Regions from separate parts of the Homo sapiens genome. Here all the other regions are linked to region 3. The links come from fine-mapping of genetic effects on gene expression. A gene starts in region 3. Each other region holds a variant in brackets. All regions are shown on one strand. Distances are between the middles of the regions.

Region 1 (4,244 bases), 340 kb before region 3:
GCACCCCAGCAAAGAGAGATGCAAAGCCTATAGCAGAAGCAGAGGCTCTGGAATTTTTGTCTGAAGATCCTTGGTTCTGCTTTCCCTGGCAGCCACAAATCAAATGTGTTGGAAACTGAAAAGTTGCTGTTAAAGCAAGACATAGCCAATCTTTTCATTTAAGGGGAAGACTACAAGTAGAAACACATTTAAAACAGGAATCGAATCCTCCCTGGTATCAGCAAAGCAGTTAGTTCCTGAAGATTGAGAACTCCGTGCACCCAAAGTGAAAACTGACTTGAAAGGTTAATATTGACAAGGTATGGGAACTGCAGCTCTATGAACTACACAAAGAGGATTTGAAATACAGTCAATGCTTCCCACTTTATATATTTATAATTTGTTTAAGCAAATGAGAAGATAGAGTCGTTCTATATCTGATCCATAAAGGTGCAGGAAGGCATTAGCTAAGAAATCCAACTGATGTGGACAAATGGAATCTACTATGACAGGACAGAAAATGAATTTTATTCACGATCCTTACCAATTCAGTTAATACTGGATTGCATGAAGCTCCACGAGATTGTGTGTGCATGTGTGTTTTTTTTTATTCTGCCTGCTTCCCACCTGCTGTGCCTGGGAACTCCTGTGCATCTTTCCTGACTCTGCCCACCATGCCTTCCTGCAGGACCGCCCCTATCCCCCAGAGCAATGTCAGTGCTGGCATAGCAGTGCATACATATCGAGATATCATAGCATTTCTAGTTTGACATTTAAAGTAACTATATGTAAGCCCTTTGAGAGGAAATACTGTGGTACATGCATTTTGTTCCCGCAACTTGTAACAGTTTCTGGCACATAGCAGGCTCTCAATAAACACATATTGACCTGAAAATCTCTAAAGAATGAAAGTATTCTCCACATTCAATAATCTCCAAAGGTCTACATACATCAGACAAGAGGAGAAAGCAGTGAATCACTAACTCAATCCTAACTATTTACCTGGAAACTCCTTGAGGAATTAACTCTATGAAGTAAAGGTTTTTCTTTTCCCCTCAAATTCAATATCTGGCTTCTTCCTAGAATCTCCAATATCTGGGATTTCATATTAAGAATTCCTCATTAATTAAACAACAGATATCAGAATCAAAGAACTCAAGAAACAAGTCTACAATTAATTGCAGCAAGAGGATCTAATCCAACATATTTTACCTTTTCTAACATCTGTTTCCTTCTGATAAACCAAAGCTCTCAGGCCCCATTCTGGGAGCTTCTGTTGTGCCTCTTGGAGCTGGGGTGAGAAAATGCTCCACACCCTGGGTGAGAATCTCTTGGCTGTCTCAAGAACTGAGCTAAAGGTGAAGAAAATATAAACCATTTTCAGCACTTCCTTTACAAAAGCTGCTGACCTTAGGTGTCTTTATCAACTTTTTTATACCTTGGTTTTTCCCTATAGAAAGTGGGAATAATAAATATGTCCTGCCTATCTAATCCAGACTGTCAACTCCTACCCATAGTTGAACTGTCGAAGCACCACCTCAGCTGTGGAGGTTTCGACACTGCGCCTGCACACCCTCTCATTAAGGAAAATATTATAATGGACACAAATACACAGTTTGATAGAAGAATTAAGACCTAGTGTTAGAAAGATCGGTAGGGTGACTATAGTTTACCATAATCTATCGTACGTTTCAAAATAGCTACAAGAGAATAATTTGAATGTTTCTAGCATAAAGACAAGACAAATATTTAAGGTGATAGATATCCCAAATACACTTATTTGATCTTTACCAATTATACTATGTATGAAATTATCATGTATTCCTCAAAACTACGTACATCTATTATGCATCAATTTAAGAAGACTATTTACAAAAAGAAAAGTATGCAGTGGCAGTCTGCATATTCTAGAAAGAACCACAGGGATATTTCTGGTCCCACATGCTCTTCCAGGACCTTGCCTCGCTGCCCGTCAAGAGATGAAATCTATTTCTCCTCCTCTTAATCCTGAGCAAGCCTATGACAGCTTCCACGCATAGAATACATGAAATCCATGCTGCACCATATCCAAGACTAGTTATGAAAGGTGATAATGGCTTATGCCTTTCACCCTCTTTAGAGACATGTGCCTTTTAAAGCCCTGAACCACCATGTAAGAAGTCCATACACCATGAAGCCACCAAGCAAGATAAACTATATGGAGAAGCCAAATAGAGATGGAGAGAGATGGCCAAAAGTCCCCAATGGCTCCTGCTGTTCCATCAGCTATGAGAAAAACTTTGGACTATAACATCTCCCTCCCTCTCCTCCCGCAACTGGGAAGGAGCAAAGAGACCAAAGAATGACTTGGACAAGTCCAGCCTGACAAGTAGATGAGTTTATGAAGAC[T/G]TGCATACAGGGCACTCCTGGGCAGGGCAGCTCAGAAGATCCACTCTGTCTCCCATCCCTAAGCTGCTTTTAAGCTGATTTTCTGGCTCTTTGCCTCCTGTGTGTGTGTGTGATGGGAATATTTTCTTTGTTATGTCCCCAGATACTCTGTGAGATGTTTCGGTTCTCAAGGACACCTGTTCCTCGGCTGGGCACCATGGCCTTGGCTCACCACCTGGCCTTCAGGGTTCAGGCAGTGGACATACACTCCTAAGTAACCTGGTGGGAGACCTGTCACACTACACTGTCTCCCAGCTGCTTCTGTTTTCTCAGCACAGGTGCCAGACATGTTAGTGAATAAGCCTCACCCATGACCCCAGCCCGGGCCACTGCCTGACGGCAACCTTATACAGACCCTGAGCCAGAACTGCTCCACTAAATTGCTCCTGAATCCTTGGCTTGCTTTAATACATTAAGTTTTGGGATGAATTGTTACATAATAATAGATAATCAGAACAACTGGAAACTTCTATACCTATCATTTATGCCCTACCTGGAAAACTTCTATGTCCACCATGTATACCCTACCTGCCACTATAAAACAACTGTGTGTCAACCAAAAAACAGAATTTTAGACCAATATCCTTGATGAACATTGATGCAAAAATCCTCAATAAAATACTGGCAAACCGAATCCAGCAGCACATCAAAAAGCTTATCCACCATGATCAAGTGGGCTTCATCCCTGGGATGCAAGGCTGGTTCAATATATGCAAATCAATAAATGTAATCCAGCATATAAACAGAGCCAAAGACAAAAACCACATGATTATCTCAATAGATGCAGAAAAAGCCTTTGACAAAATTCAACAACCCTTCATGCTAAAAACTCTCAATAAATTAGGTATTGATGGGACGTATTTCAAAATAATAAGAGCTATCTATGACAAACCCACAGCCAATATCATACTGAATGGGCAAAAACTGGAAGCATTCCCTTTGAAAAATGGCATAAGACGGGGATGCCCTCTCTCACCGCTCCTATTCAACATAGTGTTGGAAGTTCTGGCCAGGGCAATCAGGCAGCAGAAGGAAATAAAGGGTATTCAATTAGGAAAAGAGGAAGTCAAATTGTCCCTGTTTGCAGACGACATGATTGTTTATCTAGAAAACCCCATCGTCTAAGCCCAAAATCTCCTTAAGCTGATAAGCAACTTCAGCAAAGTCTCAGGATACAAAATCAATGTACAAAAATCACAAGCATTCCTATACACCAACAACAGACAAACAGAGAGCCAAATCATGAGTGAACTCCCATTCACAATTGCTTCAAAGAGAATAAAATACCTAGGAATCCAACTTACAAGGGATGTGAAGGACCTCTTCAAGGAGAAGTACAAACCACTGCTCAAGGAAATAAAAGAGGATACAAACAAATGGAAGAACATTCCATGCTCATGGGTAGGAAGAATCAATATCGTGAAAATGGCCATACTGCCCAAGGTAATTTACAGATTCAATGCCATCCCCATCAAGCTACCAATGACTTTCTTCACAGAATTGGAAAAAACTACTTTAAAGTTCATATGGAACCAAAAAAGAGCCCGCATCACCAAGTCAATCCTAAGCCAAAAGAACAAAGCTGGAGGCATCACACTACCTGACTTCAAACTATACTACAAGGCTACAGTAACCAAAACAGCATGGTACTGGTACCAAAACAGAGATATAGATCAATGGAACAGAACAGAGCCCTCAGAAATAACGCCGCATACCTACAACTATCTGATCTTTGACAAACCTGAGAAAAACAAGCAATGGAGAAAGGATTCCCTATTTAATAAATGGTGCTGGGAAAACTGGCTAGCCATATGTAGAAAGCTGAAACTGGATCCCTT
Region 2 (4,244 bases), 680 kb after region 3:
CTTGGCCCTGACGTGGGTCAGGCAACCCACATTGCTCAAGATCCAGGGAGCAGCACTTCACCGGCTGGGAGATTAATTGAAAGGATGTGTTTAACAACTAGGGTGAGTGTTAATTTGCCATTAAAGCAAAGCGAAAACGTGATGATGATAGAAATTTTATCACACCAGCTTCTCTTCTTCACCTTGGAAGATTCCGTCCTCCTTATAATGTTGACCAAGGAGTTTCTTATAAATCCCAAGGTTCCAACAGCAAGTTTTATTTTCCCATCTGTCCCACAAGATTTAAAATGCTTTAGTAAAACTGATTAAAAGCATTTATCATTATCATCAGTATTAGCAGTATTTGTTTTGTCACCATAATTTATAGAACAGTTGTGTTAAGTTCTAACATGGTCCTTTGTGGCGTTCCTCCCACTTTTATTTCTCCCACCGCACTCCAGCCCTCAGCTGCATAAAAATTTCAAGCGATGCATCGGGCCACAGGTTTCTAAAGTATTTTTGAGCCTCTGCCTCTGAAATGACAAATCAAAATATCAGTTTTGTTCTGAGTTCTAATGGAAGGCTGAGTTCTCAGGGTCCCGGTTGTATAGGGCATCCCAGCCAGGTCTGACTTTGCCACGTGGCTTTGCCCATCACAGGAAGGCAATGTGGGGACACACTGGCCCCCTTCATGTATCAAAGGGCTGTCACTTGCCCCTCACCTGAAAAACCAAACCAAGCATGGAGATTACTTTGAGCAACATCACAAATTTACCCAACCAAGTCAAGGCTACCGATTTGTGGGATAAAAAAATTTTTACCCCAAAGGGGAAAAAAAGACCTCCTTGTCAATCATCTCCTGATTACAAGCTGAGAAAATAAACTTGCTTGCAATTGTTAGCCTCTTGGTGGAGAACTGTGGAAAAGTTGCTTAAAGGAGTGATTCAGCAATAAAAGTGGAGGGGTTTGGGGGTTACAGTAAGTTTTCCTCCCTGCCAGAGCATTGTTTTCTCCACAGCTGCCTGTGAAACATTCGTGTTGTTCTGCAATTATGGCCATGATTTGTTGGTGCACTTTTATGTAGAAGTGTCTGCATCTGTTGAGGTCTGCAGCGCTACCTCTTTGACAGTTCCAGATGTTGCGAAGATGAAATACCTCCTGCTTGAGGAACTGTGCAACTAGGAGCCCCAAAAGATGTTCTGAATACAGTTTTAAAAGGCATCTGTCTTAAAATAATTTCAACATCTCGCTCGTCTATTTATAAGCCCCGTCGGGTGGTTTTTTGGGCCCTCCCGGACTATTTTAAGGGGCTCATTTTTACATCAAGATATTTTAACCATTGAAGTGACAAACCTCTGCCCTGTTTCTTTCTCTGCCCTGGGTTACCCATTAACTTGCCTTCTAACACCTTGCAATCTTTTTATATCAAGCATGAGACAGAAGGGCCTTTTCTTGGGGCATGAAGTGGGGAGGAGGCTGAAATACATATGCATGTGTATCCCTGGCCTGGGACAACTTAAGATTCACTGGTGAGGAAGCAACAAAAGGCCTCTGGGCCAGACTCCACTCTTCCCTAAGACCTCGTAACTCACCACACTGTCGGTTCTTAACATAGGAATGCTACTTGACCCTTACCAGGGCTTTGGAGGGATGTCTGGGCTTGAGTTTCTGCAGGTGAAAACCCATGCCCAGGACCACCCTTAGGAAGATCATTCTCGCGAGGTCTGGTGCAGACTAATGTTATTCTTGGGTCATTTAACTTCACTCTCAGGGAAGAGACGAAGATGGTGCTAAGTTGTAAATCACTCCCCTCTGGAATGGATTTGAGCCAGAACC[G/T]ATTGGCCTGAGCATTCCTGCCTTGCTTGACCATGGTAAAGAGATTATGGTATGTAAAATTCAGCTAAACATAGCTTGTTTCGATTTCCTACTTTCCTGGTTGTCTGTCTTGCTATGAAAGGTTAAGACCTAGGAGGGGGAGAGAAACCCACTCTGTGGAATCCCTCTCACTCCAGGGCAATATTTCCTACTCAGATGATGTCCATACATAGCCACTGTGCGAGGCTCACAGCAAGGGAAGTTGGTCCCATCAGAGAGATATTCATAAACGTGGCCTTTGGGTTGTTTTAATTGGTCAGTCTCACAAAGCAATAAAAACAGAAGGCGTCAAACACTGAAGCCTGCCTGTGGTGTAGTCTGAGTTTACAAATCCCTGCTCACATGTTTGCCATTTCATACAAAGGAAAATGACCTTCCCTTTTCCCTGATGTCATTAGCTGAGTCCAGAAACTGCAGTGACATCCTCTTAGCAGATCTGGTTGCCCTACTTGGGACTCTTCCTGAAATCCTTCAACCCATGTGGAAATGGTGCCTCAAGTCAAAGTCTCTCGAAATTTTCTCTTGTGATCCAAGTATCCAAGTTTAAAAAACAAATTATCTAAGTTAAAAAAAAAAGATTTCCTTACATCTTCTTGCCCGTTTGGCCATGTAGACCACATATGCCCATCAGCCTGCTGAAAAAAGTGGGAGTTCCTAGAGATGAGAATGGTAATAATGCACACTGTCAGCATCACTCTCTTCAAATCATTGGAAGCCCTTTTGCTTTCTGGAAAGTAAATTTGAAGCATGTGAGAGAGTAACTTCTGGCAATGGATGAGGTAAATGGTGCTCAGGCTACAGAGGCAGGTCTGCAGGTGAAAAGGCCATGGTGCCAAGACAGATGGGCCCATGCCCCACCCAGGTGCACAGAGTTGGGTGGGGGGTGGCTGCCAACATGGTCAGACAGATTTGAGCAAAGACATCCTCAAATTAAAGCAAATCCCTGCCTCTGGGGCCTTGTCATGCATTTGTCTTGCTGAATAAGGTAGAACCAGAAAGTAATTTTGATTAGCATTCTTCCAAGCTATTTATCATAGGAAATTACACCACTGCGTTGAAGACTGGGACTTTTACCAGCTATTCGTGGTTGCCTTGTTGTGATTTCACAGCGGGAGGCAGATGTGGCAGGCAGCAAGTCACCTTTGCTTGACTTCTACTCCGTTGACAGTTCACGTAGTAGGGCTCCTGTAAGAAGATATTTTAAAATTACAAGCTCAAGAAAACAAACCAGAGGCGAGAGGGTCCTTCTTCTGTTTTTCTCCCCATATTAAAGGTGTCATCAGCAAAGTTTTCTCCTCTAACAGGGGAACAAATATATCAGCAAGTCCTAACTGAGAAAAAAATCTCCTCTCATGCAAGAAACAAAAGAAATACTTAAATTGAAAGGTTTACTAAGGTTGATGGAATTTTTATTAAGAATTATTTTCCATAAAAGGAAATAGCTCTGCATTAAGATGAATATTCTAAATGTGGCATTTTTATGAACTTATAAATCTGTGCATAAGCATCTTCATACAAACCCATTCTTTTTTTTTTTTTTGCAGACAATTCATTTCTTCTTCTATTTGTTCTGCCACAGATATACTACTTCCCCAGTTATCTGAGGCAGTGATATTTGCAGCTTTGTGAATTTGCTGGAATATATAGGGGGGATAAGAAATGCTCAAAATTTCTGTTGGAAGCAGGGAATGTACTTTTCAAAATAAGTGATGCCAAACCAACAAATTATTGGCAACTTCACCTCTTATCTGACAACCTTAGAAGAAGAGAGCCCAGTGTCTAGCACTTTTACTTAAAATACTTAGAAATTGTCATTTCTTTCCCTCATCAGAGGCTTTCCTTCACTTCTTTCCAATGGAGGATAATGAGGGCAGGATGAAAACCAGAATTGGAGGAGCTGGTCAAACTCTTCTTTCTCCAAAGAGCTAGGCTCCCAGGACATAGTGAGGACAGACAGCTTGATGCAGTTAATGTAGCCAAAACACCTGCAGTTAAGCAAGCCAAAAAAAAAAATGTGTTTTGTATCATTTCAGCAATCCTAACTGGATGCCTAAAGAGAAGCTCCTACTCTAGGTTTTCAGAATACCTGTGCAGATAAGAGCTAAATCAGAGGTCTCAGAACCCTGCCATCTGGCTAAAATCTGAAAAATTCTATTTGTAAGCTGCATGATTCCCCAATATTTCCAAATAATTCTTCTATTTGAAAATATCTAAGGATCCCACCATTTGCATATAGATGTTTGATGTCATTCAGATGAAAAATCCAGTTTTACTGCACCTTAATATTGACTGGATAGATTACAAACTTGTGAAGAACAACATAACCTCCTTTGTCCAGTCACCCTGGATATCTTCATGGCTGCAGCAGCCTGGCCATCTTTGGAAACCTC
Region 3 (4,244 bases):
AAGACAATGGCCTTTTGTATTTCTCCTAGGGATTTTATATTCCTCCTTGTACTGCAGTAGGAGTAACTGCATTAGATATAGGAACCTTGGAACTGGTGCTATATGGTTTTTGCTTTTTAGGTTCTGTCACTACTTGCAATTAATACATATTTAAACGAAAATAAATGCCCCTCTAGGTTACAATGTTCCATAAGGATTTTCTTGAAGGCAATTTCTAAGTGTCTGAAAAAAGCTCGGTTGGAGTAGACATGAACTGGACATACAGGACTTGTATTGCTTTAAGGAAATACATGATGTCAGAACATTTTCAAATTATTGTCTCTTTTCTGAATGCTTTCTCTATTCTTTTAAAAATCATCGTCCATTCTGTATAATTGGCCCAGATCTTTCTTACTGGTAGTGTAAAAACTTACAGGAGTGAAATTTGAAAGCTACAGAAAACATTAGAGAAAACACTAAGATATAGGAAATGTTAGAGAAGCATCATGCAAATACTTGCCTAGAAACATTTTGTTGGAATTCAGATTCTTTTTCAATTTTCAGAAGTAAATGTAGATAAAAAGGTCAAAAAACAAAAATCCATCTTATCGTTTATCAGTTCAAAGTAAATGAAAGGAGTTTACCATCTGACAGTCCTTTGGAAAACTATTATGCAATTACTCTCGGCCCAGATTTCATCTAGAACATTCAAGTCCATTGTAATCTTACCACATCCATACACGTTTTGGGTTAAGCCACCTCCAAATGGAATAGCTCAATAACTAATACACTCAAGAGAGATTATTTTTTCTCTCTTTTTAAAAAGAGTTGCTTAAAAAAAACAAATTCAGGGGGCAGCTCACGCCTGTAATCCCAGCACTTTGGGAGGATGAGGCGGGCGAATCACGAGGTCAGGAGTTTGAGACCAGCCTGGCCAATATGATGAAACTCCATCTCTACTAAAAATACAAAAAGTAGGCAGACATGGTGGCATGTACCTGTAGTCCCAGCTACTGGGGAGGCTGAGGCAGAAGAATCACTTGAACCCGGGAGGCAGAGGTTGCAGTGAGCCGAGATCATGCCAGTGCACTCCAGCCTGGGTGACAGAGAGAGACTCCGTCTCAAATAAATAAATAAATAAAAATAAATAAAAATTCAGAATAGGGAAGCAACTCCTCCTTATGACGAGTACCTTTCGGCACTTATATGGGCTTGCTTTTGCATTGATGGCACCACTTTCATTCAAAAAAAAAAGTTCGCTTGCACAATCTGCAAAGATCTGTTTGGCTTGGTTTCATGTTCTAAAAGTATGGTTTTAGATTAAATGAAAAATAATACTTCTGAAAAATAAGCGGTTATAAGGTTTTTAAGTTTTCTTTATGTTGGTGTAAACTTATAAAGCCCTTCCTATGAAAACTGTCCCCCAAATCACATTACTTGGTCGTCCTCGAGGAACGATTTTGAATGAAAAGCACATAAAGTGCTGTAGCATGGAGACGAGAGACAAATAACTATGCCCTTCTCCCAAAATAAGTTATGACTTACTAGGGGAGGAAAAGGAGCAAAGAGTATAAAGCCCGGTCCTCTGCGGGAAGTACCCGGAGGCCTGCCCCGGAACGCGCTCCTTTCGGCTACGAGATGAGGGGCACGCAGACGGACGCGCCCCTCGGTGAGTGTGCGTGTATCAGTGCATGATTCCTTTACTCCGCCCACAGGGTCTGGGCATCCGTCATTACCTACGGCTGCCTGGTCAGCAAACAACAGCAGATCCGACAACCGCCAGTCACCTCGACGGTCCACGCCCACCGCTAGCCTCCAGTTTCCCGCAGACCGGAAGCCCTTTTGCCCCGGCTCGCAGGTCCACGTCTTATTGACAGCAGGAACCGGAAGCTCTTCTGCCCCGATCGCCTGCGCGCGGCCTCGTTGGCCGCACAGGCGCAGTGGAGCTCGGGCGGAGTTGTGGGAGTGGAGGAGGAAGAGGCGGTAGGGGGTACGGGGGCTGGTCCCAGAAGATGGCGGAGGCGGGGGTGAGTTGGGGGTCTCCCGGCGAAGCGCGGGTGACGTGGTGCTGAGGAAAGCGGCCTGAGGAGGAGGGTGGCCCTTGGGAAGAAGAACTACTTGTGTTTTTGCAGCCTGGGAACCCTGGTGGCAGGTGCGGGGAGCCAGGACCACTGATGGGCCTGCAGGGCAAGGGGCTCCGCTTACCTGAGAGGGGTCCGCAAGGTCCAGAAGGGGACTGCGGGATCGGGGAGGGGGTATAGGAGGGGTCGAGGCTCCCCGGACAGTGGATGAGTGTCTGAGCGGGAAGAAGGCTGGAGGACGGCGAGAAGGGCGACCCAATGGTCTGATGAGGTGGAGGTCAGCGAGCTGTCAAGCATAGAGCTGCCAGGACTTGGGGGCTTGTAGCCTGGGAGAGAAGACTCAGACTTGGGCGGGGATTGGATCCAAAGAAGACAGGTTGTCGTAGTAAGTTTATAATCCACTAAGGAGATAGGGCATTGGGTTGAGGAGTAATACTCTGGCATTTTTGACTGGAATTGGTTACCTATGGAATAGGTGTTTCGGTAAAGCCAAATAATTCTTGCCAGGGCCTAGAAGTGGATTTGATGATAATTACTAGATTTTAGGGTTGCTTAGTGGGGATTGGCAATATGGAGAAGGAAAGCAGTGTGGATTATGGGAGTGGGCGCGGGCAATGGCGCTAACACTTAAGTGATAATGACCCATGTCCAGTTAACGTTGGAAAAAGTTGTTAAAGTATGATATTAGCTAGATGCTCTAGGAAAATATACCATGAAGAACTTGCTGTTTTGTAGGATTGATGAAGAAATGCTTTAAAAAGGAATGGTTAGGCTTGGCAGCTGGGCCACTGAAACTGTTTGGTATCAGTATTGCGGTGGAGCTGAGGACTGCAGGGGAATGCGTGCTCCCGTCCTGGTGCAGAAAAAATAAAAGCAGCCAGACAGTAGCTAGATGGTGTTTTGTAACTTTTGGGTTTGGCCCTGATAGTGAACCACTGAATGAAGATGGATGAAGGGAATGCTACTAATGGGGGCCCCAAAGAAAACAAAAATCAGACGTGTGCTCTTCCTGTTTTCTGTCTTTCATTCTTTCCCTGTACTTTGTGCTCAGTACTGTGTTTTGTCATTGTGTTATGTCGTAGTTCTCAGTTCACATCTGCTGTACAGTGACCAAGCTGTGAATCATGTCCACTCGGGAAAGAGGTTGATTCTGTTTAACTGACAACTGTTGCTTTTGCAGATGGTCACACGGAAAAGGAAAGAATAAAATGCAGTTCAGTAGTTTAAAGAGTTTTCTTTGTTCTCAGAAACTTATCTCGAAACGATGGAGTAACTTTTTTAGGCACTGAGATGTGACATTTAAAACCTGTAAGGGGCTGTAAATGCAGCTAACTTACTGGTTTCTATGTTTGGGTTTTAATGTTGAGAGGAAAGAGTTGCAGTGTTTATAAGGCAAATATTGCTTTTCTTCCTAGAAATTTTTAACGTCTCTAGCCCATGATACATGTAGATGTGTTTTTATTTAGGGAGCATTAAACTGTTGCATTGATTTAAGTCTGTTTTTTTCTAATGTTAGTGCTTATTCTATTTCAAGAATGCTATTCTAATTAAGAGAGCATATGATGAAAAATATGTGAGGTAGTAATTTAACTTTATTATTTAGTAGCTTACGTGACCTAAGCACCTGAAGAAACAGGGTTATCTGAGGGAGTAAAAATACTTCTTTTACGGCTAATCATTGGAAGAGGAATGGTCTTGTCATTTGGTTTTAGGGGGTGTTGCAGTTGTTACAATGCAACAGGTTCTTAAGGTTACTAGAAGATTTTGTATGTGTGTTTGTTTTCAAATGCTTGTTGCCTCTAAGTTGTTTCAGTGGCCAACATGAACCTTGATTTTTATTCACGAAGCTCATAATCACTTATAACTCTTTTTTAACCTGAAAGTAATAATATCAATCCATTAATAGGCAGCCATACACCTGGAATAATGTTTTTCCAGTATTGATGATTCATCATTGATCTATGCAAATTATTTCAACTTTTTTTCTTTTTGTTTAGTATTGTACTTTCCAGAAATTTTAGGCCAGGGCTCAGCGTAGAATTTTTCAAGTCTGGTGGAAAGTTTTTCTTTGTGAATTGTTGAAAACATTATTTTGGTATTAATAGTAGTTTACCAACATGATTTTAAAAACGGTTTCTTGTGTGGCACTTAAATTGTTTTGTACCATGTTTGTGAATGGAAGCA

Evidence for each region. PIP is the estimated chance that this variant, and not a neighbour inherited with it, causes the effect. A credible set is the group of variants that fine-mapping cannot tell apart.
Region 1: its variant is the best candidate, but not a certain one, in a credible set for the expression of INSIG2 in whole blood (INTERVAL, PIP 0.62).
Region 2: its variant is the best candidate, but not a certain one, in a credible set for the expression of INSIG2 in testis (GTEx, PIP 0.88).

Annotation. Positions count from the first base shown.
Region 1 is chr2:117,746,701-117,750,944 of GRCh38, forward strand. No RefSeq gene overlaps it. Among named protein-coding and RNA genes, the nearest start is that of DDX18, 66 kb to the right of the region's middle. The variant T/G (reference allele first, on the strand shown) is at 2,368.
Region 2 is chr2:118,764,128-118,768,371 of GRCh38, forward strand. No RefSeq gene overlaps it. Among named protein-coding and RNA genes, the nearest start is that of LINC01956, 70 kb to the right of the region's middle. The variant G/T (reference allele first, on the strand shown) is at 1,816.
Region 3 is chr2:118,086,536-118,090,779 of GRCh38, forward strand. It overlaps INSIG2 (insulin induced gene 2), which reads left to right and starts at 1,936. Exons shown (of 6, transcript NM_016133.4): 1 at 1,936-2,006. LOC107985940 (a long non-coding RNA gene) reads right to left here and starts at 1,896. Exons shown (of 3, transcript XR_001739662.3): 1 at 1,716-1,896. RefSeq lists enhancers at 1,641-1,690, 1,701-1,890.